3 separate regions of the Homo sapiens genome follow, and regions 1 and 3 are each linked to region 2. The links come from fine-mapping of genetic effects on gene expression. A gene starts in region 2. Each other region holds a variant in brackets. All regions are shown on one strand. Distances are from middle to middle. Region 1 overlaps RHBDD1 (rhomboid domain containing 1). Region 2 holds the start of RHBDD1 (rhomboid domain containing 1). Region 3 overlaps RHBDD1 (rhomboid domain containing 1).

Region 1 (10,330 bases), 59 kb before region 2:
ATCATACAATGCACACTCAGACTACAATGAGAAGAAAAATAATTTTTCCAGGGTCACAGTGATTCTGCAAGGTAACCAATAACGTCACGATTCAAATTCAGATCATGTATCTCAACTTGAGAGCAAGGTAAGTATTGATGTAATTTCACTTTAATAAGGAACAATAACTTAATCCAGTAGTTCTTAAACTAATTCAAATTCCAAGTACCTTTAAGCGCCTGATGAGAGCCAACAAGCCTGTCTTCAGAAAAACTGTGTATACACAAAGTGCGTTACCTGTAATTTTAGGATGTTCATAGATACCTTGAACTCCATCCATGGACCCCTTCTTAAAAACCCTTGATTGAGGTGAATAATTCATCACAAACAAGAATTTCAGACATCAGCACCAAACCAAAGTAATTCTGTATTTAACTGGAAAACATCTTGCTAGTACTCAAATCATGGCGGCACAGAGGAAGCCATTTATTCTGATTACTCAAGTTCATTAACTTATTGTCCAAATTCCTTGTTGTGTCATTGCTTCTGTAATGGTGCAACCTATTTCTGGGTTCAGTTTCCTCCTTGCCAAAATACAATGTTTCATAGTTCTTTCAGTTAATATTTGAGAGTAAAAAATTATCCTAGTCTCTGTATGTCCTAAAAGGTTTTTATTTCAGCATCCTATTTTGATGACAGGTATAGGATCTACTGCTGCTGATAATAAATGTACTGTCAGTTGGAAAGTCATTCCTCTGTAGGCAATCTGTCTTTTTCTTCAGTTTTCAAAGATTTTCTCTTTATTTTGGACATACTGTCTTTATACCACAATCACTGTAGCTAGTTGCAGATTTATTTAACCTGCTAAGATGTGCTGTGTTTTTCAACATGAGGTCTCATGTGCTTTTACAATTCTGAAAATCCTCACCCATTATTTTTTGTCCAGTGGACCTCTAGATATGCAGCACTTGTGTATTTCCTGACACAGAGGGGGTGCTCAATATATGTTTACAGAAAAAAATTTTAATAAAATATGAAAGGGTTACAATCAAATCAATGTTGCTATACATTATTTATATGGGATAGTGATAGTAGAAAGGCAATTTTGGAGCAAAACTAAGATTAAGATATTATTGTGGATCTAAGTTATGCAAACTAAATACGAATATTATTAACACCAACAGACAGTGTTCTTTCCCATCAAGCCAGCTTAAGCTGCTCCTCATCCATTTAAGAGGCTATTGTAACGCTGAGTTAAGTGGTTATGCAAAATGTTCCTGCTCTCATGTGCCACTGTGACAGAATCAAAAACTGGATCTGTGACTGAAAGCTGTGACAAGCTATAAAGGCCCTCCTCTATTAAATGGCAAATTCTTTCCACAGTTGAAGAGGTTGTCCTCTCAAGCATAGCTCAGAAAGCAGAAAATGTAATACTCTAAGACATAATCTCACAATGTATGCAGAGCAAATGACCTCATTAAGGACGCAACTTGGAGACACAGTGTTGGACAAGGTAAAGGAACAAGGTAAGGTAAGAGGCAGTCAGCTAGAAGTGGCCTATTGTACTCTCCACGATTTCTTCCTGTAAAAGCAGTTAATAGCAGGTAGGGGCTGCACTGATCAGAAGCTCTGGGGTTTGGGGATCTTAATAAATGGTCCCAGATTCGCAGTACTAGCAATGAGATGTAATACAAATTTTTCAGGTTTTTGAACACTAAGGCCACTAGGAAAGATTCTGACAGGATTGCTTCTTCTTAACAGAAACTGTTTTTAAACTTCTTGTTTTCTGTCCTTGATGCCTCCTTCAACCATGATACCAGCATGATTGAATGACCTGGTCTACATGCTCTCTACCATGCATCCCTTGCTCCCTGCACCTTTGTCCTCAGAAGTAAAACCTAGCCATCTTCCAATATTATGTGCCCCAAAGGCAGCTATACTGACAACGCACCCTCTACAATCCATGATGATTTATTAAACATGGCACCAACTGCAGACACGGGGATAGAAGCTGACCACTGACATTTACTTGAGGTCCAGACAAAAAGAATCTGGACAAAAACAAGGGTATTGCAATAGCAGAAGCCTCTTTTACAAAAGAGCTTCCAAGATAACAGACAATGTTTAGCAATTCCTTGGCTCTCAATTCCATGTCCCTACGCCTGCTAATAAGACAATTCCCTGAGCTGGTTCAAGTAGGTCGCATTCTGCCATGGCTTTGAGGTTTGTCCCCTCCAAAACTCATGATGAAATTTAATCCTCCTTGTAGGAGTATAGGGAGGTAGGGCCTAATGGGAGGTGACTGGGTCATGAGGGCAGATCTCTCATGAATAGATTAATGTCCTCCCTTGCGGGTGAATGAGATCTCACTTTTAATAGTTCCCGCCAGGGCTGGTTTTTGTTTGTTTTGTTGTTGTTGTTGTTGTTTTGTTTTTTGAGACGGAGTTTTGCTCTTGTTGCCTAGGCTGGAGTACAATGGCGCAATCTCGGCTCATTGCAACCTCTACCTCCTGGGTTCAAGTGATTCTCCTGCCTCAGCCTCCCGAGTAACTGAGATTGCAGGTGCATGCCAACACACCCAGCTAATTTTTGTTTGTTTGTTTTTTTAGTAGAGACAGGGTTTCGCCATGTTGGTCAGGCTGGTCTCGAACTCCTGACCTCAGTGATCCACCCGCCTCGGCCTCCCAAAGCGCTGGGATTAAAGGCATGAGCCACCACACCCGGCCCAGAGCTGGTTCTTAAAGAAAGCATGGCACTGCCTGTCTTACTTCTTCCTCTCTCGCCATGTGGTCTTTGCACAAACTGGTTCCCCTTCACCTTCCACCATGAGTGGAAGTAGCCTGAGGCCTTCAGCAGAGGCTCAGTTTTGAACTTTCCAGCTGGTAGAACTGTGAGCTAAATAAACCTCTTCTCTTTATAAATTACCCAGATTCAGGTATTTTTTTATAGCAACACTAAATGGACTAAGACATATTCATTCATTCACTCATCAAATATTTAGTGACTATTACACTAACAAGACAAACAAGGTCCTTACCTCCTGGAGCTTAAAATCTAGAGTGGAGGAGACAGATGGACAGACAGACAGACAGACAGACAGACAGACACACACACCTCAAACTGTTAAGTGTAAGAAAGCAAGTCTACTTTACCCAGAACTGTCTGGGATGGCTTCTCAAGGAGGTGTCATTTAAGTGGCACTGCAGGATCTGGAGCTAGCATGCTCAGAAGTGGGAATGGAAGATTCAGGCAGCTACAAGCACATATGTAGCAGCTTGAGGCAGGAAGAATTTGGTATTTTAAAACATTCAGATGGCCAGGCACGATGGCTCACACCTGTAAACCTAGCATTTGGGAGGCCGAGGCAGGTGGATTACCTGAGGTCAGGAGTTCGAGACCAGCCTGGTCAACATGGTGAAACCCCATCTCTACTGAAAATACAAAGATTAGCCAGGCATGGTGGCACGTGCCTGTTGTCCCAGCTACTTGGGAAGCTGAGGCAGGAGAATCACTTGAACCCCGGGGACAGAGGTTGTAGTGAGCCGAGATGGTGCCACTATACTCCAGCCTGGGTGATAGTGGGGACTCTGCCTCAAAAAAAAAATTTTTGAGATAACTAATAGTAAGCAAGAAATATGGGCACAGGGTGCTGCACGGATTTAGAAACTCACGGTACATAAGGCCTGTGTGCCATGTGCCTTATGTGCCATAGTAAAGAACTTGAGTTGTTTTCTAAGTACAATGGAAGGCCACTGGAGGATTCCAAACAGGAGCATTTTTAGGAGTGATCTATTCCACCTGCTGAGAGAACAGACCCTAGAGAAGTAAGAATGGCCAAATTAAGCAGAAGACAGGTAAGGAGAATAATGTAGTCC[C/T]GGTAAAAGATGATGGCAGCTTGGAAGGAGGTGGTGGCAGTGGATTACAGAAATATTAATACTACTACAACAGATCTTGATAGGACTGCTTCTATTCCAGGGAAGGGTAATAGATAGATCTGGGATGTATTTTGGAGGCAGAGATAAAAGGACTTGCTGATGGACTCAGTGTAGAGGGTGAGGGAAAGGAAGAAATCTAGGCTTCTGGCTTGTGCAACTAAATGGATAGTGGAAGCATTTACTGAGATGCAGAAGATTGGGAAAAGGAAAGGCTAGGGTGAGAGACAATGCAAGAACTCAGTTGTTTTCTTTGCTTTGAGAGGCCTATGAGACAACAAAATAGAGACATCTAATCAGAAGGTAACTAGGTCGCAAGTTGGAAGCTGAGAGGGAAGAATGATTCAAAATGTTGCTCCCATATTTCATGTGTTGATTCCTAGAATAATTGTATACAGTTATAATGTTACATATTTATACATATAACATATTATGCAGACACACAAATATACATAAACATATCTAAAAACAAGATTTAAAGGAAATACATAAAAAATATTAATAGATAATATGTGGGGAAGGTAACATCCCTCTTATTTTCCAAACTTCTTATAATAGTGTTTCAGTAATTTCATTTATTTTTAAATGCAAAGGGAAAAGACACCGAGCAAGGCTCTCATTTTAAGAACAGTACTTCTCTCATCAATGTGGTGGATAAGCCTAAATAGTTTTGCTGTTGCTGGGGTGAGTTGTTAAGAACACCTTCCTCCATTTGGCACAGGCAAGTGTTTCTAAATAGTGCTCTGGATGAAAGTCATAATCATTAGCTTTGCAGTATTACTAAGCTTCTTTAGGATCTGTGTTGCTATTCAAATCTTCAGAACAAAATGGCAGGTTGTCCTAAATTAAATAAAAGCAAAGGTAAGTGAAATCACACAAAATAACTGGACAAGAATCTCCCCCGACTCCCTTAATTGGGCACAGAGGTTAAAGAGTCAGTGAGATTCTGTGAGGTTAGTGTTCTTTTCCTCAGACACTTCATGTAACCAGACACATCCTAGAGTTCCCTACCCTGTATCTTCTATATTCCATGCTGAGTAGCTCCCACCGACCACAATCCTCTCCATCTTCTCTGCAACACCCCTTCCCACCCACACCCCAACCTCTTAGAAAAGTGGTCAGGAGCACAGCTACTGGGGTGAGACTGCAGGGCTGACTGCTGCTAGGCAGCAGGAGAGCTCAGAAAGGTTCACATGGCCTGCAAAGGTGTTAGCCCAGCAGTCTACCCCATGGTTGCCTAGCTCAGGCTTCACCCTGGCTCATGTAACCGTGCCCTCATCTAGCCCATTTTCACCACTGTGACAAGCGTGTCTGTCTAACCAGCAAACCTGATCCTAGCCCAGAAGCCCTTTGGTAGCTCCCCAGTGTCTCTACAATAAAATGCAAGCAAGATTTGTTAGGCTCTTCATGGACTTCTGTCTGCCTCTCCAGCCTTCTCTCTCCCTTCTGCCAGGGCTCAGCCCTACCACACCCTGGGCTCTAGCCACTCACCAACGCTAAGCATCCACCCTTCAGGACTTTGTATGTGCCATTCCTTTTGCCCTCCATGTCCCCCAGCTCCTGATCATCCCGGGCCAGTGTGACCACACTCCCTCAGGACTTGGCAGAGGCTGCTCCTCTGGATACTGCAGTGGCCTCTGTGCTCCTCTAGCATGCTAAAGTTTCCCTGTCCATTGATTTGTCTGACATCACCCTGCTACTTAATCCGGTGACTTTCAACCCAATCACACCCAATACCACCTTATAGCCTAAATATTTTGTAATGTTCCTTCTTGAAATAAAATTTGTGAATAACACATCTTGTACACTTTGTGTACACAGACACATATACAAACACACAATCACAAGTCAACATAATATCCTAGCTAAAAAATAAGAATAAAAAGTAATAAAATAAAATATTATGAATTATAGGCTGGGTGCAGTGGCTCACGCCTGCAATCCAAGCACTTTGGGAGGCCGAGGCAGGCAGATCACTTGACATCAGGAGATCGAGACCAGCCTGGCCAACATGGTGAAACCCCATCTCTACTAAAAATACAAAAATTTGCCATGTGTGGTGGTGCACGCCTGTAAATCTCAGCTACTTGGGAAGCTGAGGCAGGAGAATCACTTGAGCCCAAGAGGCAGAAGTTGCTGTGAGCTAAGATGATCTCAATGTACTCCAACCCTGGCAACACAGTGAGACTCTGTCTCAAAAAATAAAAATAAAAATAATATGAATTACAAATGCTCAGGCACACCACCAGCAGGAGACATATAAAGTAGCCCTTAGCTTGCACCTCTGTGTGGAATCCTCATAAATATGGGAATAACGAATGCAGGTGGTTACAGATGCAGGCTTTTTGTGACTCAAGTACCACATTCAAGGTTCCGTGGGTAATGTGAGTTTACGTGAGGTTAAAAAACTCTTAATTCCAAATAAAGCAAAGTACAACTTTCCCTCACTTTACATTTACAATTTAATTTATTAATATAATTTTCCTGGAAAAGTCACTGTATGTTAAATCCATGTCCCCCCAAAAACTGCTCTTTATTTGAAAAGCACACTTAGGTTTTAGGCTCAGATAACCACAAACAGGTTTTTCATTTACAAGAATGTCCTTTCGACAGACTGGGGGTCAGTAGTGCTGTGTGTAGAGGACTATTTTTATCGTGGAGGTCTGTCCTGTAAGCTGTGAGACAGCTAGTACCTTTGGCCCCTGCACCCCAAATGCCAGTAGCACCCCTGCTAATCATTAGGATTACTAAGAACAACCCTGCAAATTTCCAAAATCCCTCCTGGGGACAAAGCCACCCATCCCAGTGGAAAACCACTGGCTTAGCACACAAAATATGCTTATTAAATGTTTGCTGAATTGATGACTTTTAATCATGAGGCTTCGAAACTATTTCTTTTCAAAGTACTTCTCATGTGACTATACTATGCAAAAATTCCAAGGATTCCAAGTCAATCTATAACATATTGAACTGATACGCAATAAAAGTTCCCACCACAACTGAAATGCACATGGGGAGTTGAATATTTGAAAGAGGCCATGATCACTTCCACATTGTACTGTAGCAGAATAAATGCGACTTGGCACATGAAAAATGCTCTGCCATCTGCTATTACTATAGACAAAAATATTTCTGGATACCACATCAATGATCATTTGCACAATATCTCCAGAAAGTAAATATAAAATGAAAGAGAAGTTCGACTGTTTATAGCCTGATTTTAACATGTGCTACTGGTATGAAGCAAATAGATATTCCCATGAGTTCAGTCTTTTGGAGGTATTTTCACAAGCAATGCCATAGCTAGAAATTCCATGGCCCTATGGTAGATGGACTCTCTGACTTATTGATCTTTGTTAAAGGAAGTTCATCATACAGACACATGAAGAAGAAAAGATGGCAGGAAATAGTCTCAACTGGAACTGTGGAAATGCTGTCTACTGTATTTCCTTGTACACATCATAACATGAATGAATGCACTGCCCTTCCCAGGTTCTACTCTTGATCTGCTGGTTCTCAATCCTGGCTGCACTTTAGAATCCCTTAAAGAAGTTTTACAATTTACTGCTCCTTGGGCCCTACTCCCAGAAATTACGCAACGTTGCTCTGGGGTAAGGTCCTGACATTGGTTTTTTTTTCTGTTTAGTGATTTTTTTGAAATGTTGTTTTTAATTCCCCAGGAAATTCCAACGTGTTCAGGTTGAGATGCATTGATCTTCACCCAAAATTTGAGTTCTAATGGTGAGATTTCAGTTGCCATATTGGGCCAATAAGAAAAACATTTCGAGAGTAGGCAAGACTACACCTCACAAATTACCCCATAGAAGTGGCATCTGTTTCCCTTCTTGGTAAGTTGGTCTTACTTATTCTATTCTACTGCAATGCTGCATAAGAATTAAGTATAGCTTTGAAAATGCATGCAAGGAAACATGAACTTATTTCAAAAGATTCACAAGTTCTTTGTACTTATAAAAACCTGATACCTCAAGTCAGTGTATCGCATGTACAAAAAGTCATATGCACATGGCCAAAGATGATGAAAGTAAAAAGTTAAGATAATCCCTGAATTCCTAGAGCCAACATCAAGATTAGGACAAAAACTGCATTGCAAAGTTAGCCCATAATTTCAGAAAAAGTAAATTCTGCTTGTGGTTAAATCTGGTATGAATAAAAATTCTGACTATGAAAAACAGACATGCCCCATCTACTACATGACTCAGAGACCTTAACATGCCATCAACATCACATACTACTCTGTAGCAGCTTTACTGGTATGTCTGTAAGGCACAGTTAATGTTAAACAAACAGCATAGAAATGCTAGCTAGAAAGTTCTAAAATCTGCCCATTTGAGCTGAATCTGCTTATGCAATACAAGCTGCTAGGCTGAACATTTGTGAACAAAAGTCACCCTAGTGAAGCCAGGTGACCCCTATGGGCTCATCTCAGCACAGTGTCACAGTCAAAGAAACACAGCCCCACCTCCAGTGGAGGCTCAAGAGGTGCAGATAGTCCCTCAGCTTCCTGGCAGCCAGAGCACAGGCATGCGACCTGCACTGGCCAATCAGATACCCTTTGTATCTAATACAAAGTCTAGTGATGACAGTCCAGTGAAGCACTGACCAATGGCAACAAGCATCCTGCCAGTTCTTACAGGTTCTTCCAGCCCAGGTCTTCAGTATTCTCAAAAATATTAGAAGCTATCTGATATCCTTCCGATAAGTCTTTTTATGGTTCAGTTTGCCAGAGTTTATTTCTAGGGTTTCCAACCAAGAATTCTATTGGTTGGGTACAGATACTTATACAAATGCCAGGGAGACAGTAGCTGCATTTTCTCTAGGATTGCTAGCATTAGGATGTAGGAGCTGCTGATGTCAGCTCTGTCACCATGTGGAGAGAACTCTTCTGAGAATGAAACTGGGCAGACAGACTTTCAGATGACCCCTGGTGATCCCTGATTCCTGGGTATTCACTCCTTGGATAACCCCTCTGCCAATGAGCATAGGTGGAACCTGTGAATTGTTTCTAATCAACAGAATACAAGTCACTTCTATGATTATGCTATTAATATTACATAAGACTGTAATTTCTGCCTCACTAGCAGACTCTTCTTTGCTGAAGGAAGGTACCACATTGTGAGCTGCCTTAGGGAGAGAGTCAAGTGGCAACGAACTGAGGGCAGCCTCCAGCCAACAGTGAGGCTCTTAGTCCAACAACACAGAAGGAATTGAATTCCTCCCACAACCACAGGAGCTGGCATTGGAGCCTTCCCCAGTCAAGCCTTCATATGAGATTTCTGTACTGACACCTTTGTTGCAGTCTTGAGAGAGCCCGAAACCAAGGACCCAGATAAGCCATACCTAGACTCCTGACCTATTAAACACTGTGGGATAGTAAATGTGGTTGTTTTAAGCTACTGGATTTGAGATCATTTGTTACATAGCAATAGATAACTAATACAAAAGCCAAAACAGGCGTTGGGGGTGGGTGGTTAGTGAGATAGAGCCAGGAGGGAGAAACAGAATCCTAATGACAGTAAGAATCTGAGTTTCATCATATCTGAAGCTCCTGGAACCTTAAAGTACACCATTAGAAATTTTAATAGTGTCCTTTTCTTTGATCAGGTTTGCTTGAGCTGGGTTTTTTACTTTTTAAAAAAATTTTATTTTAAATTTTTATGGGTACATAATAGGAATATATATTTATGGAATATATGAAATATTTGGATATGGGTATACAATGCTTAATAATCACATCAGGGTAAATGGGGTATCATTCATCCAAGCATTTTAAAATAACTAAAAGAGCATAATTGGAATGTATGTAACACAAAGAACTGGGTTTCTTTAAATTGTAACCAAAGGACTCCTAGCCAAGGTGACAAAAGATGACAGAGGCATTATAGAATCCAGCAGGCCTCAATCTCTCAAAGAGCATTTGGCTAAACACTCTATTTCAGCTCCAGGGTAGGCAGACCACAGGTGGAATGGAGGACCTGATGATTCTAATAAGAGTCAAGAAGAATGTTACTACACTGAAGAAATACTAATGCAGATGTTCATCACTGAATGAATTCCCAGAACCTTCTAACAGATATAGCTCCATTCCTCATGTGCAGGAGATAATAAAAATATTGTAAGAATTAAAAGAGAAAATACATACTAAAGAATCCTGTAGAATGGCTGACACGTTGCAGGTAAACAAAATGTGAGTCAAAACTCAAACATCTCACTGTTTTAAAAACAGACACACTATTTTTAAGTACTCACTTATTAGGTCTTTTAAAGGGCTCTCTAAAATCTGTAGTTATTTTATTCAGTAAATTGTCAGCAAACACTTTCAAGGGGATTCCATGATTTACACAGTTCTGGAAGACTTGGACGTGCTCTGACTGGCTTGAGCTTTAGCAACCCTCACCTTG
Region 2 (10,330 bases):
TGCAGCAAACCACCATGGCACATGTTTACCTATGTAACAAACCTGCACATCCTACACACGTACCCTTGAACTTAAAAGCTGAAGAAAAAAAAATTAGCTGGGTGTGGTGGCACATGTCTGTAGTCCCAGCTACTAGGGAGGCTGAGGTGGGAGGATCAACTGAGCCCAGGAGGTCCCGGCTGCAGTGAGTCAAGATCACACCACTGCACTCCAATCTAGGTAACAGAGTGAGACTCTGTCTCAAAAAAAATAAATAAATGAATGAAAAATGAATACGCCTTGAAAGAAAAAAACAAGAAATTTCCTTCAATATGTTAGGATGAGGGCGACTACATGGGCAGTATGCACAAAATTCATTCCTAGGTTTGTTCAAATTTAGAATCACAACTGATTCATTGCAACACACATAATTGCAATATTGCTGGTATCAGTAATATATTTTTAAAAAACGTAGTGAAATTTTTTTCACAGTATTGCCCAAGAGACTTTTTACTTAAGAAAAAAAAAACCCAAATTATATGTAGTTGCCAAAACACACATACACACAAGTCCACACACACACCCCTATATATTATTTATAAAACTGAAGTCATTGTAAGTAACATTTATATTTATTTCATTCATTACTATCCTGATATTGTGACTTTGCATTAAAAATGCATAAGCAAGTTAACACCTGGAGAAACAGCTGTTGGTGTAATGACAACATTCCTAGAGCTAATGCCAGAAGATCTGGGGTCAAATATGGAGGCCATCATGTACTAGTATGTGGCCTTGGGCAAATCATACAACCAGTACTGTAGAGCTTCTGTTTCTTTATCCATAGATGGCAAAAAATTCCACTTACATTCTAGAATCACCATCAAGAATAAATGAAATAGGGTATTATGTTAAAGCGTGCAGTGCATCACCAAGGTTTTTCACTCTCCTTTCCTCTCCTTAATGAGATTTTCCTGCCCTTAGAGCTAGATTCTATTACTGTGTAATTATGAGGTGCATGTAACAATGTCCAAGAAACTAGATGGTAAATAACCCCAACATGCAAACCGGAATGCACACATTGTTAGTTGGCCATCACGTAGATCCCAAAGGTCTCTTGCCCATTATCTGTTGCTTCCCAGAAATTTGATAGATTTTCTTTCCTGAAACAGCCAAAGTTATCTATGGGCTTTGAAATATCACCATCATGATATTGCCACAAAGCAGCTGGTTGATTGAAAGTAACTCCCCCTCCCCCAAGCTCCAGCTGTCACCAGGAAACCCTCTTCAATGTGTGAAAAAGACAATGTAATATCACTAACTACCACTATTAGTAACAATCTAACAAATACTTAGCATTTGAAATTATTTTTCTTATGAAGGCTCATTATTAACTAAAAATTAACTCTAAAAAAACACTTTACTATATAAATATAGAGTAGTTGCTTCCATACAACAAAAAAATGATAGGGCTATAAACACAAGTAATACACTTCCTTTGACTCCTTGTTTCTTTTTCCCCGAGTCATTTGTAATCCTAAACAACAGTCAGTTAAAATGCCAAATAGCTTTTAATAGCGATACAGCTGTCACAACTTGGAGGGATTTTTTAAAAAGCTAATTCCTCAAAAAAGTGCACAGAATCCTACTTTGTAAAATACGGGTCAGGTGGGTTTTTTTTTTTCTCAATAATCACTCACTCCTCTGCATGAGAAGCCATCCATATGGTGACATGGCTGACAACCTTGGAAATTGTCTTCAGAACAAGTTTGTGAATCCCACTTACCAGAATTCTTAATACCATTACGTTTTAGGTATAGCTCATGCCCTGAGGATTTCTATTCCACCACAGAGTTTCACGTCCAGCTCCCCGGAATCCGAGGTTCCCTAGGCACGCCTCCTAATATCGCTGCCAAGGACCAAGAGCCTGTGCCCTTCAACCTCACTGTTCTTAAAGCTTCTCGGCTCCTGAGTTTTACAGGTAAGATTCTGTTTAAGAGGCTCCCTGTTGAAAAAAAATATGAGGTCCATTGCTTACGTGGCTATGACTGCAACATAAAAGGAAATCTACCTTTTAAAGAATCGCTTCCGTTTTTAATAGTTTTTTTAAAGAACATTTACATATACATGTACGTATCTAATTTTACATATATAGAAAATTTCCTTTTATACTTGGTCCCCACCCCCATATTCCAATATACTGACAAATAAAATTATGACCTAGTGTGAGTCAAGTATTTTCTGCACTCATACATTCATATACAATATAAACACACAGAAATACATGTAAGAGATTTTGTTATCCCTTATTAAAAAATGTAATGTAAAACTTTTCACTTTGCTATTAAGAATTCGTGTTTTAAAAAAATATTAGCAATTTCAGGGCTAACAGCATTTTCTCATCCTTTGATGCATACCTTCAACGAGGTCTCATTTCCTGTAACAGTGTCCCCTTCTCTAGCTGACTGTCCCCATTAACTAACAGAAGATACTTTATTACTCATCCCCTGACCTTTGGATGTTTACCTTGCTGTAAACATCCAAAACAATTTCTACAAGTTGCTCTGTTACAGTGATAAAACTGAAGATGGTGTTTTTTCACGTTAAAGTTTCAACTTTTTTCAAGTGTTTGTTTTTTCTCATTCACAATAATATGAAAGCTTTGACTCCATTTCAGCATTTTATGGTTAAAAAGAAAAGCAGTGCAGTTAGGTAATAAAATTACCTCATTTATAAAAATATTATAAAATGAATGGCATAAAGTTAGGTTTGAGACAACAAATACCTTTTTTCCCTTTGTCCGACACACAACATTTACTGAGCCTCTGTGCCTAAAACAAGGTGGACGTGTTTTATGCGTTATTTCATTTAATTCAATGGCCTGAAGTAGCACATCCTATGACTCCTACTTTACAGAAATTCAAGTGGGGAGGATGTTAATTTGTCTAATGTACACAATCACTAAGTAGCAGAGGCAAGATTCAGAGCAGGGCTTGTCTGACCTAAAACCACAGATAGCGATCTGCCTCTCCGATGAGGAGAACAAAAAAAAATATTTAATGCCTTCGAAAAATAAACATTTCATGATGGGGCAGTGCCAATTTGGTGGCAGAGCTAACGAAATTATTTCCAGAATAATCCATTCAAAGTGACTTATGTTTATCTGAAAACTCTCTCAATATCCAGGAGCCATGGTATAGCCTTGGGAGCAGCGTGCTCTCATCAAAACGACATGTGTAGGCCACGGTTTGGCACTGACCTTCTCAACATTGCAGTGAATGTAGCCTTTAGAGCAGCTGCTTTAAATCCTGAATATTTCTTTCTCCCCCTACAATGGACCCCTGAAAGAGATAAAGTTGTAAGAAAATACTGCATCTAAAAAACACAGCAGGTTGAGGGCACTCCTGTGATCCTTCCTGAAAATGGAGGTATCTAGAGTAGACATGAGATCTTTGCTACCGTGGAGTTGTACGACATATGGGAAACAAAGATAAGGACAGAAACATATTCAGCCTTGGCTTTCGCTTGCAAGTCACTATGTTACAATAATTCTCAACTCTAAAACTAGTGCTTACCTCTGGTCTTTACCAAATTCTGGGTCAAAGAAGGTATAACTAAACTGAAGACGAGGCAGGTGGATTACCTGAGGTCAGGAGTTCGGGACCAGCTTGGCAAACGTGGTGAAACCGTCTCTACTAAAAATACAAAAATTAGCTGGGCGTGGTGGCAGACGCCTGTAATCCCAGCTACCTGGGAAGCTGAGGCAGGAGAATCGTTTGAACCCTGGAGGCAGCGGTTACAGTGATCCAAGATTGCACCATTGCACTCCAGCCTGGGTGGCAGAAAGAGACTGTCTCCAAACAAAGCTGAAGAGATCAGAAGGCCAAAGAATTAAAAACTACTCTTCAACATAAATACTAATGCTATTCTTAAAAATCCTACAACCACAATAGCATTAGTATGCACTGCTTTAACTTTTAACTGAATATCCTGCATCCAACAACCTTGACTACACAGAATTGAGAATCCCGAGGTAAACAAAATACCCTCTAAGCAGCAGTCCCAATATCCATGCGCTACAGCTCATATCTACCCCGCTGAAGAATCCTTCCAGCACAAACTATGTACTTATTTTATGCAGTTCTAATAAGTTACTTAATAACATCTTTGAGGGTTTTCTATGTGTTTTGTGTTAAACATTTTTCTTGCATCTTCATATTCCAGCCCTGTGAGGTAACATGTCCAAGTTTTTCCATCTAGGAATTACTTCAATTCAAATTCCATTATATGTGATTCCACAATGGGTGTTATCACTACGCCATTAATTCTCAAACTTTAGCGTCCAGGTGCATTGGTATCAACTGGAAGGCTTGTTAAAATATATTTCTGATTCAGTAAGTTTGGGATAAGACCCCAAAATGTGCATTTCCAAGAAGTTCCCAAGTGATGCTGATCCTAGCGTCCTGGGATTATTTAGAAACCAATGCACTTCTATTCTTCTTTGAAAGAATACTTGCTTTCCACAGCGACGGCAGGCCTGCAGCAAACCAGAAGCCTTTAAAGTTTATTAGAACTACCTCAAAAAGACACACAACTGTGAGAAATTAGATAAAGCCTTCTAATAAGCAATTTCAAAGAGAAAAAAGAAAAGCCTGGGAGTCACTGAGTGTACTGCAGAGACCCAAACACCTCGATAATTGAATCATAACTAGGCAGGCACTCATTCATTTTGACAGTAACGCTGAGTCTTCAAAAGAGTTTATGCTCAGTTTAGAAAAACAAATAAGGCTGTGATCCGTTTCTTGTAAACGTTTATCCAAAGGTTTTTAGGGGTTGGACAGAAAGGGTTTACTTTGGCGGATTTTTTGTCCTCTAATAAAAGTTATTACTGCGGTGAGGCTTAGACTTGTTCTGAGAAACTGAAAGCTGTCCCGAGAGCACCTGAAACTGCATGCTCTGTTGCTGATGCAACGTCACTTCAAACTTCCTGCTTTCAAAAGGAACCCTTTAAACTCGCTCAGCGCCAACCCCTTCCTCCGAGTGTGGGCACGTCGTTCCCGTGCGGTCCGGCGGAGATGCGGCAACTTCGACAAGACCCCAGGTGGAGTTACCCCAGGAAACGCCCTCCCCGCTCTCGGACTTGCCCCGGACGGGGAGGCTGTGCCTCCAGCCCCGCCATGCCTCCCTCGCCCTAGCCCCCCGGGAGGCGCCGACCTCCGCCCAGCAGCCCCAGCCCGGCCGCCAGCTCCCGCAGCCCGGGGAAACGGCGAGAGATGCCGCTCACAACCAACGACAGCAGCCGGACCAAACAGACGCGGAAACTCACGCTCTCTACGACCCGCCTGCGTCCCCACGTCTTCGCGCGCACGTGCGTCATCACGCACGTTCCCGATCCGGGGCGCCCCGGGTTCCTGGGGCCGGGTGCGGGAGGGGAGGGCCTTAAAGCGGACGGCTCGGCCGCGGCGCATGCTTAGTTGTGCGCGCCCGCGCTCTGCTGTCTGCAGACCGCGTGCGCCGGCAGTGGCTCTAAGGGGGCCGCGAGGGCACAGCGGGGCAGGACCGCGGCAGAGCGCAGTAAGGAGAGTGTGGACCCTCGCCCTGTCCTCTAAGCTCCATGTGAAATGTGGATAATATTCCTTACTGCCATAAATAGCCACTGGCCGCTGACTACGCGTAAGGCAAACAAGCGACCTGCGTTCAAGGGACCCGAAGACTAGGGGAGAAGCAGCGAGCGGGTCGCGGCCGCCTACCCAACGGACGCCTCTGCCCAGGTTCTCTGCCGGGAAGCTTCGTCCTTCCGGGCCCCAGCGCAGCCGGAGGCTGGGGAGCTGCTGCCTGGAAGGGTCAGATACCGCCTGTTAGGCGGAGGGTGGGAAAGACACTCTCCTGCTTCAGGAGCTATCGCAGACAACCGGAGGGCGGCTTATCGCAGAGTCCCAGAGCCAGCCAGCAAGGCAAGGTCGCGGGTGCACCTTTCACTCCCAGAAGCTTGGGTCTGGGACTGCACCACGCAACGTTTGCCCATTTTGAGGGCTTTAGGTGTTTCATATTTCAGTTAATAGAATTTCGATTAATACATAATTTGATACCATTTTAATTGTTTGCTACTCGGGAGCAAGTTTTATGTTTAGCTGTAGGAGTTAGGCTAAGTTAAATGTTGCAATGCTATATATATTTAATAGGATATGAAAAAACTATCTTACAGCCGGGCGCGGTAACTCACGCCTGTAATCCCCGCACTTTGGGAGGTCGAGGCAGGAGGATCGCTTGAGCTCAGGAGTTTGAGACCAGCCTGGACAACATAGTGAGACCTTGTCTCTATTTAAAAAACAACAACAGGCCTGGCGCGGTGGCCCACGCCTGTAATCCCAGCACTTTGGGAGGCTAAGGCGGGCGGATCACCGGAGGTCAGGAATTCAAAACCAGCCTGGCCAACATGGCGAAACCCTGTCTCTACTAAAAATACAAAAATTAGCCAGGCATGGTTGCGGGCGCCTGTAATCCCGGCTACTCGGGAGGCTGAGGCAGGGGAATCCTTGAACCCGGGAGGCAGAGGTTGCAGTGAGATCGCGTCCATGCACTCCAGCCTGGGCGACAGAGCATGACTCTATCTCAAAAAAAAAAAATCTTACTATTTGGTATGGAATTTTCTGATAGCTAGGGTAAAGATGCTCTTTTTCCAAGAAGGAATCCGAGTATCCGAATACAGGTGGTTTAGTGTTACTCTTTGTTTATTGGAAGTTGTAGCAGCTGTGTTTAGATAGTCTGCTAAAACAAAAACTGCCTAAACCAGAAGAGTTTATCTTTTGCCATTGTGTATTAAAACTCTTCATAGAAATATTTATTTTGGAGTTTGAAATTTAAGTGAAAATGTGGCTCATGCATAGGTGTGGGTGTACATATGACTTTCAAGTGACAAAGAAGATTCTTAGCAAATTGTACGTGTTCATTAAGACTCATAAGTTACCTCTTTCCTAGAAAAACAATATACTCCTCCAAAAGCTCAACTGACAATGAGAAACTGCATTTCTGGACATGAAAAGTCAAATGAATGCGGGGAAAAGTAAATTGCCTATAGAGGTATTTTCTGTATTTCCCTAGAGGGGGAAATGTGTAATTTCTCAAAAGGAAGAAGTCCTCATTTATCCTTCTGAACCACAATCATATGAATCCATTCAATTAATATTAATCTTATCTTCTATTCTCCATCACTCTCTACATCTTTCTATAATTGCATCATTTTCTTGTCCGTATAATACATCAAATGCAGAGGTGATTTTAAGGGAGCCACAAATCAAGAAGTCTCAATTCAATAATTTCGTTAAAATGTAAGAAATATATACGGATTAAGAATATTCTTAGGTAATTATGTTCTGTTTCAAATATCAGTGAAAATTTTCATAGACATTTAAGGGGTAAAAGACATTTAACAGATAGAAAAAAATATCTACCTTTTAAAAAATGACCTTCTCTTTTGTCCTACGTGATTTGTTGAGCAGACTGGGTTTTTTAAAAGTTTCTGTTGAAATGAGCATGTTGTAACATGCTCATATCCCATTTCAATTGACAAATATCACTTGGATAATAATTGTATATCTTAAATATGAACATATGAAGCAATCAGCAGCAGCATCCTTTCACTGAGCAAGGCTTAAAAATACCAAAGAATCAGTGCCAGAAGAAATTCTTTAACTTAAAATATACGTAATCACTACATTACCATATAAAACAATGATTTCTAAATGCTGGAAAGTATATATCTTAATCATGAGACGAGGCAGCACTATGCACATTGTGCATAATATGTGAGACATTGAATGGTATAAAATAAATTTTAACTTTTATCTAAGGTTTACAGGAAAAGCAGCAATACCTATGATTAAGCCACCCGACTTAAATGAGTGTTTTTAAGATGTGGTGCTTGCACATAAGCGGAGGAGTGGTGGTAACAACCCTTGTACAGTTCACAAATCCAGGACTGGCAGGAAGGTAGACAAGTGTCATTCTCAGATTTCAGAACCCAGCCTGAAAGTGAGAGGACGTCAGGCAACAATACCATGCAACGACAGCGTGCAACAAATACACAACTGGATTATCTTTTTAAGGGAGAAGCTTGTTTGGGTTTCTAATTGCTTTTAATGAACCAAGTATTGATTACTGTTTTACCCAAAACTGTACCAAAATATGTGTAAAACTGATAAGATAATTTATAGCTTTCTAGTTATGGAAAAGCTTGCAAATTAAATAATTCAAATCTCAATTTAAGAACTGTAAAAATGAGAAATTGGTTCATGTACCATAGTGATAATAATACCAACAATACTTAACAGTAGACTATGCAGACACTAACCATAAGAGATTTGTAGTGGCTATACTAATATCAGATGAAACAGACTTTAAGAAAGAAATTTCTTTTTCTTTTTTCTTTTTTTTGAAGTGCAATGGCACAATCTTGGCTCACTGCAACCTCTGCCTCCCGGGTTCAAGCAATTCTCCTGCCTCAGCTTCCCAAGTAGCTGGGATTACAGGTGCCCGCCACCATGCCTGGCTAATTTTTTGTATTTTTTTAGTAGAGATGGGGTTTCACCATGTCAGCCAGGCTGATCTCAAACTCCTGACCTGATGTGATCCACCTGTCTCGGCCTCCCAAATGGGATTACAGGCCAGCGCGTCTGGCTGACAAGAAATATTTTTAGAGACAGAAATTCCATACTGATAAGAGGGTCAATACATTGAGAAGATATAACAGTTATAAATGTATATGCACCCAGTAACAGAGCCCTAAATTCATGAAGCAAAAATGATTGAATTGAACAGAGAAATATACAAACAACAGTAGTTTGATATTTCAGTATCCTACTCACAATAATGTGTAGAACAACCAGGCAGAAAATCACTAAGTATATAGAAGGCTTGAACAAGACTCTCAACCTAACCAACATGTACAGACCACTGTACTTAATGACAGCTGAATTTATGTTCTTTTTAAAAAGTATACTCTCCAGGATAGCCTTATGTTAGACCATAAATAAGTCTCAGTAAATTTAAAAGAATTGGGATCATACAAAGTACATTCTCCAGTTACAGTGGAATTAAATTAGGGATTGACAATAGAAAGAAATTTGGAAAATCCCCAGATGTTTGGAAATTAGATTACTCATGGGCCAAGGAAGAAGTACTAAAGGAAATTAGAAAGTATTTTGAAATGAATGAAAGTGAAAACATATTGAAGTCATGCACTGCAGCTAAAACAGTGATCAAAAGGGTATTTAGTCCTTTAAACACCAAGAAAAAGAGTCTCAAATCTACACTTCCACCTTGAAAACTAGAAAAAGAGGAGGAACGTAAACCTTTAGCAAAGGGAGGAAATAATGATCATATTGCAAATCAATAAAATAAGTAACAAAAATAGAGAAAATGAAAATCAAAAGTTTGTTTTTTAGAAAAAAAAAAAAACCAGTAAAATTAATGAGCCAACATTAAACTGGCCAAAAAATTAAAAAGACCAAAATTAGGAATCAAAACAGGTACATCACTACCAACCCAAATTAAAAGGATTGTAAGAGACTGTAAATAACGTTGTGCCAATAAATTAGACAATGCAGATGAATTGGACAAATTCCTAGACAGACACAAATTGCCAAAACTGGCTCAATAGAAAATCCAAAAAGACTTTATTTTCTATGGTGGTTGTAAAAAAAAAAAAAAGTATTATAAACTAGGTGGCTTAAGACAACAGAAATTTATTATCTCATGTTCTAGAGACATGAAGCTCGATCAAAGTGTTGGCAGGGCTCTGCTCCCTCTGAAACCTGGAAGAGAGAATTCTTGTCTCTTTCCCACTGCTGGTGTTTTCAGCAATCCTTGGCCTTTCTTGGTGCTCCTTGGTTTTACAACTGCAGCACTTCAGTCTCTGCCTGCATCTCCACATGTGCTGTTCCCTCACGTGCCTGTCTCCTAGAGGCTGAAGTGCCCAGCCTACTCCAGTGTGACCTCATCTTAATGAATTACATCTGCAATGACCCTCTTTTGAAATAACGTATTCTAAGGTACTGGGGGTTAGGGCTTCAACACATCTTTTTGGATGACACAGTTCAACCCATAACAGACATGTAACAAGTACGGAAATTTAATACTTTCCACAAAGAAAATCTTCCCACAAAGAGAAGCCCAGGTCTAGATGGATTCACTGATGTCAATCCATCAAATATTTAAGGAAGAAATTATACCATCATACACAAACTTTCTGAAAATAGAACAGTTCTCCACTTACTCTGTGAGGATGTTATTACCCTGATAACAAATTCAGACAAAGACATTACAAGATCAGCATCCCTTGTGAATGTACAAA
Region 3 (10,330 bases), 30 kb before region 2:
AATAAATACAATAATCAAAGGCAATATATGAATTTTGGATCCTGGTTCTCCTTTGGCCACAACAGTTATTAAAGACATTTTGAACACTAGGAGAATCTGAACATGAACCAATTACTAAACAACATTAAGGAATTACTGTTAATTTTCTTTTGCATGACAACAGTAATGTGGTTTTGTAAAATTATATTTTTCTGTTTAACAGATGCCTGCTGAAGTTTTTAGGGGTGAAGTTATTATGTTTACAACTTACTGTCAAATGGTGCATCAACATTTCTTTATGTTTGAAAATTTATAAATTTATAAATATTTTTGAAAACAGAAAATTGAAACAAGTGGAAAAATAAATTGAAAATAAAATTTAAATTGAAAAATAATTGAAAATCTGTATAATAAAAAATTGAAACAAGTAAAAAATATATTTTTTCTCTCATTTGATCAATCTAGCCAAATAATTTTTAGTTGGGTCAAAGTAATTTTATTCTTGTCAAATATTAGCAATGAAGCAGTATCCAAAGCCTAGGGGGTAATGCTTTCAGCTGTCATATTTTACCAAATACAGTGGATCCTTGAACAACATGGGTTTGAACTATGCAGGTCCACTTACATGAGGATCTTCTTCCACCTCTGCTACCCATGAGACAATAAGACCAACTCCTCCCCCTATTCTCCTCCTCCTCCTCCTCAATGTGAAGATGATGAGGATAAAGACCTTTATAATGATCCACTTCCACTTAACAAATAGTGCATACATTTTCTCTTCTTTATGATGATCTTAATAACATTTTATTTTCTCTAGCTTACTGTAACAATACAGTATATGATACATATAACATGCACAATGTGTGTTACCTGACTGTGTATGTTATTAGTAAGGCTTTCAGTCAATAGTAGGCTATTGATAGTTAAGTCTTTGGGGTGTCAAAAATTATATATGAATTTTCAACTACATGGGGGCGCAGCATCCCTAACCCCCAAGTTGTTCAGGGGTCAACTGTAATACCCCAGGGTCCAAATGCAGCCAAGGCTTGCTTATTTAGTGTTTAAGAGTGGCTTATGGGCATTTTTAGACTGCTGTCATTCAGGACGAAAAAAGTCAAGTAGGAGCAAAGGGAAGTAGGGAGTGGAAGTCAAACAAACAAAATTAAATAACAGCTGATTTATTAATTTTAGAAAGCAAAAGAAATTAGGTATGATTCTATTTAGGAACAGTGTACACATCCAGTGATTTATTTCATAATAAAAGGGTTGAGTACTTCCTATTGTTTACAAAGAGCTCATTCGCATATGACACCTTAAAACTGACTTATCAAACAGAGAAGGTAAGTAATAGCCCATTACACAGGTGAGGAAAATGAGGCTCAGAGAGGCTGTGTACCTTGCCCGAGGTCCCACGGCCAGTATGTGAGCCCGGCCCTGTCACATTCAACCGCTCTCCTCTAGTATAGTCGCTGAGTGGCTGTCTTACTCTGGGTGATGTTCATGATTCTCCACTTTGGTTTTCTGTCTAGATAGCCTAAGGCTCAGACGAGAACACACAGAGGTTCATAATCTCGCTAGAAGGTAAAACCAGGCAACATATCCCCCTTCCTCCCATCAACAGAATCTTGGTGGGGGTAGGAGGTGGGAAGGGACAGAAGCCTGGTCTAGGAAGGAGGCACCAGAGGTGGCCTGCACATCTCCCTCCTGGGACACCCCTTCAGACACTATCACCTATCAGGGTCTCAGGACACGAAGGAAAATGGAAAGCCGGATGTGAAGCAGAGCAACCTCTGAAGTAAGTACACACAGACACTGTGAGAAGCAAAAGCACCACGTGAATGAGGGAGATTGCTTCACTCTGGCATCAAGTCCACATGCCTCATACTCCTCACGATGCCTATTTGGGGTGGCTTTCCTTCATAAAACTCTGTAACTGGGGGAAATTACTAATTCCGTGGCTTTCATAAAACACAGAGGTCCACCAAATGTTTGCTTTGGCAGATTTTTTTTCCTCCCGAAGGGCAGCCCATACAGTCCTGCAATAAAGCAAGCTTTGTTCTAAAGATTTACAGTGTTTTCCCAATGAAAATTCTAATTGACAACCATCAAGCAAATAACAATGCATTGCAAAGAGAGCTCTAGTTTCAGCCATTCTTCCGAGATCCATCTCAAAGAAGCATTCACTGCTTAGGTTTCCTGGGCCAGTGTTTAGCGTAGTCTTTATTTGGATACATGTGTAAGTAGATGCTTGTATATTAGAAGTTTATCATTCAAAGCAGTCAAATCTTAAAAATCAAAAGACTTTAAGTTCAAAGACAGGAAATTTCATTTACTTCCCAAGCTCAGAATTACCGGTGCCTCCACAAAGAATATGCATATGACACAGAAATGCAACCATCCCTTTTCCATGTAAGTTGGGGGGAACCCTAAAAAATGAAATGCATAAAAAGCACTTCAGAAATAGTTGCATAAGAATATTAAACGCACTGTTATTCAATGGATTCATCACAGGATGAAAGTTCAAATAGCAGAGGGAGTGATTTTCATATGAATGTGGGTGTTGCCAGTCACATACAAGAGCCTATCATTGACACAGAGAACCAAGTCACATCAAGCAAGTCAGGGGAGCAGTGAGTGACAAGGTATAGAGAGGGCTGTTCAGATAAGGGACAGACATTACCGGATGCTTTCTCAAAGAAAACTTTGAAGATTTTGTTAGGCTTTCTTCGTGGAACTGTCAAAAGTAGCAATACAATTGTAAATGAGTGGTACTCAGGGGCCACGTCACTGTCATTTATGGGCCAGCTGCCAGTGGCTGCCCGTGATGGGAAATTAGCATTAAAGAAGGACCTGGAGTTACCGGGCTGACACACAGCCCCATGAGAATACTCTCAAATAAGGTAAGACACCCAGCACAGTCACACAAATCAAAACCAAAATAAAAACTGTCTGTAAAGAACAGTAGCAAATAGAAATCTTCCTTCTTTCTGAACCTTCCTGAATCTCACCCTTTGCCAACGTCCAGTCCCACAGTAAAAACAAACATTATGCATTTCCAGTTGCACAAGACAGATTAAGGAAAGTGAAGCTGGTGGAAGAGGTGGAAAAAATAACACAACTTATCTTCCTTTTTCTAAACAAAAAGCAGAGAAAAGAACCAAAGGAAGAAAGTGCAGCATGAATGGGCAGGAGCCCCAGACAGGAGTCAGGGGGCCTGAATCCTCACAAGGCTGGTGTCTACCACAAACTGTTTGTTGATAAGTCTCTTAACCTTCCGAATTTCCAAGTCCTTCTCTGTAAGGGAAAAAATTCATCTAAATCAGCAGTTCTGAAACTGTACTTCCTGGAGCTCTAGGGTTTTGTGGAGGTGCCTCCTCTGAGGAAGCCACAGCAACATGGGAGTAAGGTGAAAGGGGCCCCATTCCACTTCTCAACCCAAAAGACTTCAGAGCTGATCCATTTCACATTTTGAGTGTTAAGTAAAGCCTTTTGTTTAAAAAGTTCTACTACCAAGACAATTGACAGCTAAAATGGCTTAAAAGCATTAGATCGGCCGGGTGCGGTGGCTCATGCCTGTAATCCCAGCACTTTGGGAGGCCAAGGCCGGCAGATCACAAGGTCAAGAGATCGAGACCATCCTGGCCAACATGGTGAAACCCCAACTCTACTAAAAATATAAAAATTAGCCAGGTGTGGTGGCACACGCCTGTAATCCCAGCTACTTGGGAGGCTGAGGCAGGAGAATTGCTTGAACCCAGGGGGTGGAGGTTGCAGTGAGCTGAGATCACGCCACTGCACTCCAACCTGGGTAACAGAGCGAGACTCCATCTCAAAAAAAAAAGAATAATAATAATAATAAAAAGCATTAGATCAACATACCTTATAGCTTTTTAATCTTTATAGTTACGTGGTTTCTATGTGCTTCTTTGGAATCTTGCTTTCAGAATTAACCAGCTGATTGGCTGGTTAATATTGATCCTCAGATCAGTATAGCAGGTTCTCCTACTTAAAAAAAAT[G/A]AGGAATCTGCAACTCAGTTAAGACAAGTGACCCAAAATTATACAGCTTAATAGTTGAAAAGATTCAAACCCAGAAATATCTGACATTAAAACTATTAAGCTTGATTCTGTCCTAATAGATAAAGAATAAACCTCACTGTGAAAAACAATTGGTTACCTCATTATTATTGCAATTTTTTTCTCCACAGAACATCAGGTCCTTCAACTGTATTCCCCAAAAGAAAACACTTACCCTGGTGAGAATAAATGAATAGCCACAAGTTCGACCCAACAAGCAAATCTGTTCGGTACAGGAAAGCCCAAAATGTTGACAAAGCCTCCAGGGCAATAATGGTTGTTAAGAACTTTCAAAGCAAACAAAACTCCTAAAAGAGAATGAAGAACATGCAAATATCAACAATCCAAAAGTAGGAGTATCAACATTTACAAAGAAAGTTAATTAAAAGTGAAAATGATTATTCGATTACATCCAACTTTGTGCTTTAAAACATACCCTATTCCTTACAACCTTGCATTTGGTAAAAAGACAACGTTAAAGGCAGTCACTCCTTTGATGTTTCTAAATATAGAAGTTCATATTGGTGTTCAGTATGCTACTAAATACATAATACCTACCATGTGAATAAAATACTATTATTAGTATTAAACGCCAGTGAACTGTGCACTACAAAATAGTTATGCTATATAAATTTTAACTCAATAAAAATACCAGTAATATGTATTTTTCTAACCTCTATGGAAAAACATGTTGAAGACAGGGCATATATTCTTTCTTCTCCCACAATTAGATGCATAAGGATACATCTTGGAAGGAAAGGGGAAGGATGTCAGGAAAAGCAGAAGGAAGGATTAGATTTCCTTGTTTCAGGACTACCTCTCTCCTCCCCTTCACATTCTAATATTTAGAACGCCTAATTTAAATCCTGCTGGCAATTTTGGTCCCATGAAATATCTGTAAAAAGGAACTAGTGAGGAAGAAAGTGAGAGACAATGCATCACACAGCTAATCTGTAGACTGGGCTCAAGTCCCAGCTCCATCGCTTCCGAGCTGGGTAACCTTGTGCTAGTAACCTCACTTCTCTGGGTCTTGGCTTCCTCATCTATAAAATCAAGACAATCCCTCAACAGTCAGCAGGTGGTCAGAAAAAAAACTACAAATAAAAAAAGTAAAATAAAATCAAGGCCGGGCACAGTGGCTCACGCCTGTAATCCCAGCACTTTGGGAGGCCAAGGTGGGTGAATCACAAGGTCAAGAGATAGAGACCATCCTGGCCAGCATGGTGAAACCCCATCTGTACTAAAAATACAAAAATTAGCTGGGCATGGTGGTGCGTGCCTTGTAGTCCCAGCTACTCGGGAGGCTGTGGCAGGAGAATCGCTTGAACCTGGGAGGCGGAGGTTGCAGTGAGCCGAGATCACGCCACTGCCCTTCAGGCCTGGTGCCAGAGCGAGACTCCGTCTCAAAAAAAATAAATAAATAATAAAATAAAATAAAGATAATCCCATCTCCATGTGGATCTGCTGCATAAATTAAATTGGTTAGGTTATGCAGAGTGATTATCATGGCTCCTAAAACATGGCCAGCATGCCATAGCAGGGTGTGGTCCATTTATTAACGAAGTCATCCAGAGGCATCGCAGGACAGTTCTCCAGGTGGCCTTGGACCTATGTAGTTCTCCCCCTCCTTTCTCGCTTGTAGTTCTCAAGAATAACTATGGAAATGTGCTGGAAATCCAACACCCTGAGATAAAAGGGGGCTGGCTGAAACAGCCTAATCCTCTCCCGAATAGGATGTCTTTCAAAGCTTTGCCCAGTGATTCATGTGATTCCTAGGTTTGTACCTGGCTGCCTCTTTGGGGTTCCTTATTTGCATGCAAGGAACACACACAGTGAAGACTCCAACAGCCCTAGGCAGCTTTTTGAGCCTTGAAGATGGGCTCACGATGAATCCTAGGCTCCTGTTTTCCCTTGCTGCCTAACTGTAAATACTAAATCTGCCTCATGTAACTTGTTGCAGATGAGTGTGCTCTGTCTCACCAGGTGCAGACAAGTTGGTAATCAGAGACAGCACACTGAGCCTACTTCACAAGCACAGTCATCTTTTTTGAGAACTCCCTATTACAAATACATCTGTGGGTCTTTCTGTGACCCTACCATAAGGAGCTGGTGCATATTTCCAATACTATGTCTTCTACAAAACCACCTTCCAGCAGGTCCTAGTGCAGACTAAGAGTGAATAATGCAGCATAATGTAGAATGGCAAAAACTAGTCCCTGCATGCTCCAGCCTCCTCTTCAAGACGCAAAGCCTCAGCAGCCCTTAACCACTCAGAATTTGATAGGGACCCACACTTCATAAAATGACAGCAGCCACACCTCCCTTGCTTCCTTTATGCATGCAACCTCAAAATTTTGTCTCCCTTACCTGAGAAACCTACAGCACAGCTCCTTTTGAAGTCAGGTTCATCCATAAATTCGGCAACAGCAAATTGCAAGAGCAGGTATACCACTCCAGTAAGTACAGAAAATGCGGTGATAACATAGGCAAACCATCTACTTCCCAGTCTTCTTTCTAGATTTATTCCTTTCCAGAGCATGGATGCCATATTGAAATACAAATGCCAATCATCAGCATGGTGAAGGGGAGAGAGCAGTAAACGCTGCCAGTCTTTTTGCTGGTAACACTTCTCCACACTAAGGCAGGAGCTATACAGTGGCTTCTGAGGGTTCAAGAAGAACCAGATGTTGAGGGCCAAAGTTGCTAGGGTGACAGGTGGAATATTGTTGATCCCAACATGGAAGATTTGAGAAAGGAGTAGAATAAGTCCAGTATTTATCCCTCTTGATCTCCGTTGCATGGCCAGATATCAGGGAAACAGCTCAGCAATGGGAAAACGTACTCAGGTGGTCAGTTTCAGGTATCTGGGGAGATATACAGACGGCTGAACCTAAAACACAAAATGCATGTGAAAAACCATCAATTAAGAATTAGTACATATATAAGACATACTCGCTTCAAGACAAACTCCCATGAGGCAAATGCTACTTCTCATTCTAACAGAAATATTTATGTTCGACATCTTCAAGAGTAATATCGAGGATGCTGACTGACACCCTTCCTTCATTTTACATTCTAGAATAGAAATGTTATCCCAAATCCCAATGAATCAGTTAATGGACAGGTATGTTTTTCTCTGACAAACACACCACGAAATTAACTTCACTTCCCAAACAAACATGTAACCTCATGAAAAACCTACAAAGATAGTGTGCAAGTATTAAATGATTTCTACTCAGAATCCTGGCCAGGATTCTTTATCCCCTCCATTTTTTTCAAAGAAATATTTGATTTTGATATGTTAGAATGAGTTTGCTCCAAAGTTTTTAAACATCAACAAGCAAGTTTTAAGACACGAGCATACATTATCTTTAATCCCAATTTCCACACTGCCAGATATCAGTGGTCTGAACTCTACTTTCATAACAACTTCAGCTTTTCGTTACCTACTCTACAAGCCAAATCCTGGGTTGAAACACAGTCCTTGTTTTTAAGAGGCTCACTTTCCACCAAGAAATAAACCAACAGTGGCCACATAATGTTCTAAATGCAGTGAGAGAGGGAACCCAGAGCACAGGCACACAACACAGCCTGAGGTGGTGATCTGACTATGGTCTTCAAGGGTGATTTGGGGTTGACAATGAGAAGTTCCATGGCTTACTAGCCCGCTTCTCCACCCCGCTGGACCTGGGCTGGCACTGTGACATGCTTTGGCTAACAGAATGTGGAGGAAGGGATACTACATAAGCTCCCAGCCTATACCTCAAGATGATTTATAGGCTTCTCTCTCTTGAAACCCTCTCAAACAACATGTGAAAACTTTAGGCCAGCCTGCTGGGTAATGAAAGAGAGGCACACACTCCAGTCACCCTGAAGGTCCTTGCCACTGGTCAGCTACTACTCCAGAGGTGAAGCTGTCTAGCTGACCACAGGTATACAAGTGAGTCTCGCTGAGCCCAGCCTAATTTGCTGACCCACAAAACAGTGAGCTAAATAAATGGTACTTGGTTTACTTCACTGAGCTTTGGAGTGGTTTGTTATGCAACAACTACTAACTAATACAGAAGGTATTGCCTTTCGCGAGTGCTGTGGTTTAGGTGTTTGTCCCTCCAAAACCTCATGTTGAATGAATGAATGAATGTATTTATTTATTTAGAGCCAGAATCTCACTCTGTAGCCCAGGCTGGAGTGCAATGGCATGATCTTGGCTCACTGCCACCTCCACCTCCTGGGTGCAAATGATTCTTATGCCTCAGCCTCCTGAGTAGCTGGGATTACAGGCATGTGTCACCATGCCTGGCTATTTTTAGTAGAGACTAGGTGTCACCGTGTTGGTCAGGCTGGTCTCAAACTCCTGACCTCAGGTGATCCGTCTGCCTCAGCCTCCCAAAGTGCTGGGATTACAGGCATGAGCCACTAGGCCCGGCCTCATGTTGAAATCCGATCCCCAGTATTGGAAGTAGAGCCTAATGGGAGGTGTTTGGGTCATGGGGGAATATCCCTCATGAAAAGATGAATGCCCTCCCTGGGGTCAGGGGATGAGTGAGTTCTCACTCTTATTAGTTCCTGCCAGTGCTGGTTGTTAAAAGAGACTGGCACCTCCCCACTCCCTTGCTTCCTCTCTCATCACATGATCTCTGCACATGCTAGCTCCCCTTCACCTTTCACCGCAAATGGAAATGGCCTGAGGCCCCCACCAGATGCTCAATCTTGAACTTTACAGCCAGTAGAACTGTGAGCTAAATAGACCTCTTTTCTTTATAAATTACTCAGACTCAGGTATTTATAGCAACCCTAAACGGACTAAGCCAGGGAGGGACTGTTTCATGCTCATGAGAAGAAGCTAGTAAGGGAAGAGATGCAGGCAGAGACACAGACTAAAGATGCAAGAGATAAATAAAAAGGATCAAGTGCTTGGAGGGAAGAGTCTTTTCCTCTTAACAGAAAGAAAAGAAAAATCAGGTGTAGCTATTAGGGGCAAAATGTTGAAAAAGTTCTCATCTAATGGTTTCTGCTTTCTCTGTGGAGATTAATTGGCCCCCAACCAAACAGGTAACTCACTCTAATACCCTAAGGATTCTAACTTGGACTGCACACTGGACAATGCATGAGTTTTAGAGTTAAAAAAAAAAAAAAAAAAGGCAGGATTCTCCTATCTTCTAGCTCTGTGACCTGGGGCAAATCATTTAAACTTTCTGAACTTCAATTTCCTCCCTTTAAGAAACATAAAACCTCCTTCCCAGGATTACTGTGACATGCTTGGAACAAAAGAGATGCAGAATAAACAGTAGCTACTACTTTCATTTCTATAAAGTAAACTTACTTATGTGAGAATTAATTCCTTTGCAAATGGTAACATCCTAAAAAGACTCAAATGTACTCCTATGCCCCCATATGGATTCTTATTATCAACATCACACCAAAACAATGTTCAGAAAAAAATTATGCATGTGTATATATATATGTGTATGCATACACACACAAAATTAGCCATATACATACACGTGCATGCACACACACATTATTGGCAAAACCCCATGTATTAGCACAACCCGTTTCTATATTGTTATTATTGTAGCTCTGTAGCATTCTTATGAACTAGAGAATTTAATGAAATTTAAACTGAAATGCTCCCACATAACTTTGGATAAATGGCCTATATTTTTCACATTAGAACTCAAGTCAACTTTCAACTCTTTACCTACCGTAACTTTTTTGTAATTCTCCTAAATTTATCAATATGTGTGCACACGTGTGCCCACACACACACACAGAAATATTTATGTTACATATATCAAACATTATTACCTTTAACAGGAACAATGGAAAAACTGGCCTTGATCATTGATCAGTAAATAATCAGCTTACAAGAAATCACAAAATAAACCCTTCAATATCATTGCCAACAGTGTCTTATGATGCTGGGCTTTATGTAGCAGAAAATCAAAACTAACTACATCTTTGCTCAAGAAAAACTTGCCCCTCAATTACAATCATTAGTAATGAAGAATATAGATAAAAGGACAGAATTCCCAGTCTTACTTCACACTGTGTCCCAGGCTCTGATTGCACTTTCCTGAGTTACTTCTGGCTGGATGAAAAGGTGTCTTTCTGTCTGCATCCCTTCGCACCTCCCAGCTCTCCACTGTTGACTGCTCCTGCTTCTGTGGGACACCTTGCTCTCCTGAGGCTTCACTCCTCCTTCCAACCCGTTTCTCTGCTGTTCACTTCTCCTCTATCCCTACTCTCTCCTGCACACACTCAAGGGCTTCCACTT

The links. PIP is the estimated chance that this variant, and not a neighbour inherited with it, causes the effect. A credible set is the group of variants that fine-mapping cannot tell apart.
Region 1: its variant is the best candidate, but not a certain one, in a credible set for the expression of RHBDD1 in whole blood (INTERVAL, PIP 0.68).
Region 3: its variant is the best candidate, but not a certain one, in a credible set for the expression of RHBDD1 in whole blood (TOPMed, PIP 0.69).

Annotation. Positions count from the first base shown.
Region 1 is chr2:226,890,065-226,900,394 of GRCh38, reverse strand. All of the region lies in intron 5 of RHBDD1 (rhomboid domain containing 1), which reads right to left. Among named protein-coding and RNA genes, the nearest start is that of RHBDD1, 59 kb to the right of the region's middle. The variant C/T (reference allele first, on the strand shown) is at 3,855.
Region 2 is chr2:226,831,063-226,841,392 of GRCh38, reverse strand. RHBDD1 (rhomboid domain containing 1) reads right to left here and starts at 5,339. Exons shown (of 9, transcript NM_001167608.3): 1 at 5,306-5,339; 2 at 3,239-3,320; 3 at 1,766-1,984. RefSeq lists enhancers at 4,827-4,976, 5,817-5,886, 5,726-6,020 and a silencer at 5,027-5,556.
Region 3 is chr2:226,861,217-226,871,546 of GRCh38, reverse strand. It overlaps RHBDD1 (rhomboid domain containing 1), which reads right to left. Exons shown (of 9, transcript NM_001167608.3): 4 at 6,421-6,943; 5 at 4,229-4,361. The coding sequence starts at 6,853. Among named protein-coding and RNA genes, the nearest start is that of RHBDD1, 30 kb to the right of the region's middle. The variant G/A (reference allele first, on the strand shown) is at 3,997.